2 linked regions of the Homo sapiens genome follow. The protein of the gene in region 1 purifies or fractionates together with the protein of each later gene. This does not show direct contact. Each region holds a gene or a part of one and is shown on either strand. Other genes may lie near its edges.

The links. Proteins that work in one complex are often made in the same cells at the same time.
Region 2: the proteins of PLIN3 (region 1) and IMPA2 fractionate together in Homo sapiens (co-fractionation; one large-scale study listed by BioGRID). This does not show direct contact.

What each region holds. Positions count from the first base shown.
Region 1 is NC_000019.10:4,847,085-4,850,736, reverse strand, and holds part of PLIN3 (perilipin-3), read left to right. Parts: intron 1-2,846; coding exon 2,847-3,046; intron 3,047-3,652. UniProt on the Homo sapiens protein: Structural component of lipid droplets, which is required for the formation and maintenance of lipid storage droplets. Required for the transport of mannose 6-phosphate receptors (MPR) from endosomes to the trans-Golgi network.
Region 2 is NC_000018.10:12,001,955-12,005,606, reverse strand, and holds part of IMPA2 (inositol monophosphatase 2), read right to left. Parts: intron 1-3,652. UniProt on the Homo sapiens protein: Phosphatase that can use myo-inositol monophosphates, myo-inositol 1,4-diphosphate, scyllo-inositol-1,4-diphosphate, glucose-1-phosphate, beta-glycerophosphate and 2'-AMP as substrates in vitro.

The DNA.
Region 1 (3,652 bases):
TAGGCCGGGCACGGTGGGTCACGCCTGTAATCCCAGCACTTTGGGAGGCCAAGGCCGGGCGGATCACAGGTTCAGGAGATCGAGACCATCCTGGCTAACACAGTGAAACCCCATCTCTACTAAAAAAAAAAAAAAAAAAAAAAAAAAAATTAGCCGGGCGTGGTGGCGGGTGCCTGTAGTCCCAGCTACTCGGGAGACTGAGGCAGGAGAATGGCATGAACCTGGGAGGCGGAGCTTGCAGTGAGCCGAGATCATGCCACTCCACTCCAGCCTGGGCAATAGAGCTAGACGCCGTCTCAAAAAAATAATAATAATAAAATAAACATTAGCCAGGTGCGGTGGCAGGCGTCTGTAATCCCAGCTACTTGGGAGGCAGAGGTTGCAGTGAGCCAAGATTGGGCCGCTGCACTCCAGCCTGGGCGACAGAGTGAGACTCCATCTCAAAAAAAAAAAAGCATGGGTACAGTAGGAGCAGGATTAAATAAATACATGCAGCTGGGCGCAGTGGCTCATGGCTGTAATCCCAGTACTTTGGGAGGCTGAGGCGGGTGGAGGTTGAGGTCGGGAGTTCGAGACAAGCCTGACCAACATAAAGAAACCCTATCTCTACTAAAAATACAAAATTAGCCAGGCATGGTGGCGCATCCCTGTAATCCCAGCTAACTCGGGAGGCTGAGGCAAGAGAATGGCTTGAATCTGGGAGGCAGAGCTTGTGGTGAGCCAAGACTGCGCCATTGCACTCCAGCCCAGGCAACAAGAGTGAAACTCCATCTCAAAAAAAATAAAGGCCAGGTGTGGTGACTCATGCCTGTAATCCCAGCACTTTCGGAGGCTGAGGCAGCTGGATCACATGGTCAGGAGTTTGAGACCAGCCTGGCCAACATGGTGAAACCCCATCTCTACTAAAAATACAAAAATTAGCCAAGCATGGTGGCACATTCCTGTAATCCCAGCTACTCAGGAGGCTAAGGCAGGAGAATCACTTGAACCCGGGAGGCGGAGGTTGCAGTGAGCCGAGATCATGCCATTGCACTCCAGCCTGGGCAACAGAGTGAGACTCTGTCTCAAAAAAATAAATAAATAAATAAATAAGTAAATAAATACATGCATATACACATATGAACCTACGAACATGGGATGAGGCCAGGCGTGGTGGCTCACACCTGTCATCCCAGCACTTTGGTGGGAGGATTAGTTAAGCCCAGTAGTTCCAGACCAGCCTGGACAACATAGACCCCATCTCTACAAAAAATTTAAAAATTAGCTGGGTGTGCTAGTGCACGCCTGTAGTCCCAGTTGCTATTTGGGAGCTGAGACAGGAGGATCACTTGAGCCTGGGAGTTCAAGGCTACAGTGAGCTATGATTGCACCGCTGCACTCCAGCCTGGGCAACAGAGCGAGACTGTACTTCAAAATATAAAAACCGACAAAACAAACAGATCTAAACATAGAAAAGGTACAGGAAGCCAGGTGCAATGGCTCACACCTGTAAACCTAGCACTTTGGGAGTCTGAGGCGAGCAGATTGCTTGAGTCCAGGATTTCAAGACCAGCCTGGGCAACATAGTGAGACCCCATTCCTACAAAAAGTACAAAAATTAGCCAGGTGTCTTGCCGTAGTCCCAGCTTTATGTAGTCCCAGCTACTCGGGAGGCCAAGGTTGAAGGATAGCTTGAAGCTGGGAGGTTGAGCCTGCAGTAAGCTGAGGTCGTGCCACTGTACTCCAGCCTGGGCAACAGACCGAGACCCTGTCTAAAAAAAAGAAGAAAAAGTACAGGAAAAATACGGTATATATGGTATTATAATCTTATGGGACCACTGTAGTATATGCAGTCCATTGTTGGCTGAAATGTCATTATTCTCTTTTTTTTTTGAGACGGAGTCTCACTCTCACCCAGGCTGGAGTGCAGTGGTGTGATCTTGGCTCACTGCAGCCTCCACCTCCCGGGTTCAAGCGATTCTCCTGCCTCAGCCTCCTAAGTAGCTGAGATTACAGGCTAGTGCCATCACGCCTGGCTAATTTTTGTATTTTTAGTAGAGATGGGGTAGTGCCATGTTGGCCAGGCTAGTCTTGAACTCCTGACCTCAAGTGATCTGCCCGCCTTGGCCTCCCAAAGGGCTGGCATTACTGGCATGAGCCACTGCACCCGGCCTACGGTATTATAATCTTATGGGACCTCTGTAGTATATGTGATGTATTGCTGGCTGGAATGCTGTTATTCTCTGCAGGACTGCATAATGAACATTCAGGCCTATATTCACAGGTTGTCCAAGGCAGGTCTGGCCTGCAGGCCATAGCTTGAGACCCTCCTGCTAGTCTAAGGTCTCTGATTCCTGTGAGGTTTAATTTTCCTTATCCCCGTTTTGCAGATAGGGAAAACCAAGGCAGAATCCTTTGCTCCCAGGCCTTCGAGGTTTATAAGAAGTAGAACTGGGTTATAAACTGGACAGCATGGCCAGGTGTGGTGGCTCACGCCTATAATCACAGCACTTTTGGAGGCCAGTTCGGATGAATCACTGGAGATCAGGAGTTCGAGACCAGCCTGGCCAACATGGTGAAACCCCGTCTCTACTAAAAATACAAAAATTAGCTGGGCATGGTGGCGGGCGCCTGTAATCTCAGTTACTCGGGAGGCTGAGGCAGGATAATCACTTGAACCCGGGAGGCAGAGGTTGCAGTGAGCCGAGATGACACCACTGCACTCCAACCTGGGCGACAGAGCGAGACTCCATCTCTAAATAAATAAATAAATAAACTGGACAGTGTGATTCTTGGGACTGTCTGCATGGGACGAGCCCAGCTGTGTGTTCTGGTCTTCACAGAGACCCTTCTCCTTTTCCTTGCAGCCCGCATCGCCACATCCCTGGATGGCTTTGACGTCGCGTCCGTGCAGCAGCAGCGGCAGGAACAGAGCTACTTCGTACGTCTGGGCTCCCTGTCGGAGAGGCTGCGGCAGCACGCCTATGAGCACTCGCTGGGCAAGCTTCGAGCCACCAAGCAGAGGGCACAGGAGGCTCTGCTGCAGCTGTCGCAGGTCCTAAGCCTGGTGAGGTTCCAGGGGGTCGGGGCCCTGAGCCAGCAGCCTTCACCCCGCAGCAGACACCCACCCAGAGCTCAGTGGCTTATTGCTCACCCCTCTGCAGGCTGGCAGGGCCATTCCCGCTTGCTCCTGGCACTGTATCTGGTTGTACACTCATTTGCTCAGGATGCTGCCACAAACCACACTGTCTGGGGCCGGGCACAGTGGCTCACACCTCTTTGTGTGAGTCCCTCAAGTGCTTTGGGAGCCCAAGGCAGGAGGATCGCATGAGTCCAGGGGTTTGAGACCCACCTGGGCAATATAGCAAGACCCCATCTCTACAAAAAATAATTTAAAACAATTAGCTGGCTGTGGTGGTGCGTGCCTGTAATCTCAGCTACTTGGGAGGCTGAGGTGGGACGATTGCTTGAGCCCAGGAGTTGGAGGCTGCAGTGAGCTATGATTGTGCCACTGCACTGCAGCCTAGTCAACAGAGCAAGACCCCATCTCAAAAAAAAAAAAAAAATCGTGGCCAGGTGCGGTGGCTCATGCCTGTAATCCCAGCACTTTGGGAGGCTGAGGCGGGTGGATCACGAGGTCAGGAGTTCAAGACCAGCCTGGCCAACATGGTGA
Region 2 (3,652 bases), on another chromosome or scaffold:
ATAAGTTAATTTGTTAACAAAGCTTCTGCTGTGTGTAACCTTTATTATTTATCTATTTGTTTTTTAGGTTTCATTTAGTGTAACCCAGCAAGTACTTTTAGAAATTTTTTTTTTTTTTCTTGGAGACATGGTCTCGCTTTGTCAGCCAGGCTGGAGTGCAGTGGCACAATCATGGCTCACTGAAGCCACAAACCACTGGGCTCAAGCAATCCTCCTGCCTCAGCCTCCTGAGTAGCTGGGACCACAGGCATGCATCACCACACCTGACTAACTCTGCCTCACATTTTTTATGAGAATAACTCTAAGTACCCACACTGAGCACTGGATGTTTTTCAGCAGCTGATCATTCATACCCTAGAGCTGTCTTCCTCATCACCCACCTTGTGTACACCTCTGCCCATGAGACTGCCTGCCCGCCTACAAGGTGGCACGAGCATCCCCCTTCCCACCTGCCTCATGCTTGTGGGCAGCAGGGAGCAGGCTTCTGCACTGTGTGGCTGCAGCGGTGTGAAGGCCAGCAGAGGCGTGAACCGTGCTCGGTCTTTGGAGGCACCAAAAATACTTCCCTGGTACATGGGAAGAGATGCACAATTTTTATTCACTTAAACCTGATTTTACTCATGTAGGAAGCTAATACCTGTGAGATGAAAGACAATGTTTTACAGCTGTCTGCAGAGGGAGTGGGGAGAGTCTGCTCTGCAGACATGACTGTAGACAGATGTGTGAAATCATAAAGACCTTCCTAAAAGCCACTGGAACATCTACATAGAATCCACAATATAGGCAGGGCACGGTGGCTCACGCCTGTAATCCCAGCACTTTGGGAGGCTGAGGTGGGTGGATCACTTGAGGTCAGGAGTTCAAGACCAGACTGGCCAACATGGTGAAACCCCGTCTCTACTAAAAATATGAAAATTACCCAGACATAGTGGTGCATGCCTGTAATCCCAGATACTTGGAAGGCAGGAGAATCGCTTGAACCCGGGAGGCGGAGGTTGCAGTGAGCAGAGATTGCACCACTGCACTCCAGTCTGGGCTACAGAGCAAGACTCCATCTCAAAAAAAAAAAAAACCCACAATATAAATAGGAAAAAAAATGCACATGACTAAATTTAGGGAAAAAAAGAACATTCCATACGTCTATCCAATAGACAAGAGGAAAATAGCAACTGGATTAAGGCTAAAAGTTTGGTAATAAGTTATTATAGAATATTATATCCTACTGCATAACTTAACCACTTTTCTTTTTTAAAAAATAGTTTTAACAAACCCTCCTTATAATTTTGACAGCTGAGTGCCTTTAAGCCCCTTTTTTCTTTCTTTCTTTTTTTTTCTTCTGGCTACTTAGTCTGTTTAGTCTGTGACAAGAAGGTCAGGATCATCCCTGCTGTCCACAAAGGAGATGATTTATGATACTCTGTCCCCATCTTCACAAGCCACTGCCCAGTGGGAAAGCAGCTGGATGTCAATGTTCAGCTGGTGGTGGCTGGGAGCATGTTTTTCCCATGTCAAGGATTCTGTTTGATGTTTTGCTTGACTCACGCATTCAACAGACACTGCTCTGTGCTGGGCACTGCAGGGCAGCAGGTTACATGGGGGCTCTGGAGCAGGGCTGGGAAGACAGCTAAAAACACTAGACCCTTGAGCTGCTGACCTCATCTCTGGGCCTAGGCCAACCCAGAGAAGCTCCAACAGGCTGCTCCACAGAAGGGACAAGGACGGGGTTTCTATCACTATAGCTCAGGGATGCTACTGAATCTTTTCCAAGTAGCTACACTTGTATCTCACTCAAAATCATCATCTGAAAACAGGTTTAGGCGCCCCACAAAGCCAGGGCATGGCAGGAGACAGCTATGTGGCCAAGGCCAACAGCACACTCCAAAGACCCAATCTATAAAAACCCGGCCTTACCATGCTGCCTTTTTTTTTTTTTTTCCTTTTCTTTTTTTTTTTTTTAAGATGGAGTCTCACTGAGATGCCCAGGCTGGAGTGCAATGGTGCAATCTCAGCTCACTGCAACCTCCACTTCCCAGGTTCAAGCGATTCTCCTGTCTCAACCTTCCAAGTAGCTGGGACTACAGGCATGCGCCACCATGGCCCAGCTAATTTGTTTTCCTATTTTTAGTAGAGACGGGGTTTCATCATATTGGCCAAGCTGGTCTCGAACTCCTGATCTCAAGCTATCCACCCACCTCGGCCTCTGAAAGTGCTGGGATTACAGGTGTGAGCCTCTGTGCCCAGCCCTGGTTTGCTTTTTGTCATGTTACGAGTTAAATGCTGGGACTTCAGGGATGACCATGGTCAGGTCCCTCATTCACAGGTGAGGAGTTCGAGGCCCTAAGTGGTGAGATTTGCCAAAGCTGCTAGGGCCAGTGACAGAAGCAATTTTATTTATTTATTTTTTATTTTTTGAGACAGAGTTTTGCTCTTGTTCCCCAGGCTGGAGTGCAGTGGCGTGATCTCAGCTCACTGTAACCTCCACCTCCCAGGTTCAAGCGATTCTCCTGCCTCAGCCTCCTGAGTAGCTGGGATTACAGGCACGCACTACCATGCCCAGCTAATTTTTTGTATTTTTAGTAGAGATGGGGGTTTCACCATGTTGGCCAGGCTGGTCTCGAACTCCTGACCTCAGGTGATCCACCCGCCTCGGCCTCCCAAAGTGCAGGGATTACAGGTGTAAACCACCGCGCCCAGCCTATTTATTTTTTTGTTTTGAGGCAGGGTCTCACTCTGTTGCCCAGGCTGCAGTGCAGTGGGGTTTTTCATAGCGGCTGCATCAATTTACATTCTCACCAACAGTCTGCAAGGGTTCCTTTTAATCTACATTTTTTTTTTTTTTTTTTGAGACAAGGTCTTGCTCTGTCACCCAGGCTAGACTGCAGTGGCAGCATCACAACTCGACCTCCAGGACTCAAGCGAGCCTCTCACCTCAGCCTTCCAAGTAGCTGGGAGCATAAGCGTGCACCAGCATGCCCAGCTGATTTTTTAATTTTTTTGTAGAGATGGGGATTCACCATGTTGCCCAGGCTGGTCTCAAACTCCTGGGCTCAAGCAATCCTCTGACCTTGGGCTCCTGAAGTGCTAGTATTACAGACATGAGCCACTGCACCCCACCAGAAGGAAGTTTAAACCTTATCATTCTTTGATTCAGTCTACACCTGTCTTCCAGGTCAAGGAGCAAACCTTTGGATTTCATGGATGAGTGAAATAAAATAATAAAACTGGGGAGCCTGTATCAGGTTTTTAAAAAAATGTTATTAAGTCTATTTTTAATATCATTTCATGAAAGACTAAAATCAAGGAAAGAGAAAAGCTCAGAATAAAAGTCTTTCCTAAAGGAGGATGAGAGGCAACTTCAAATTAAATATATTGTTTAAGGGATATATTTAAATACTTAGAAAGCAGAAAAAAATCACAATGTCCTATTTTACAATATGTATACAATTTTCTCTCATCACAAATTTATCAACTTTTCTATGATCTAAAATACAATTAAATCCCCAAAATTTACTTTCTTTTTAATCTTAGTCATTGGCAAAAAAAACTCACTTCACATAAATATGTTGAAAAACAACTGCATTTGATGTCAATTTTTGAGGCACACTGAGCAGAGAAGAGAACAGCTGCTTTCACCGTGTCCACACATTCACCC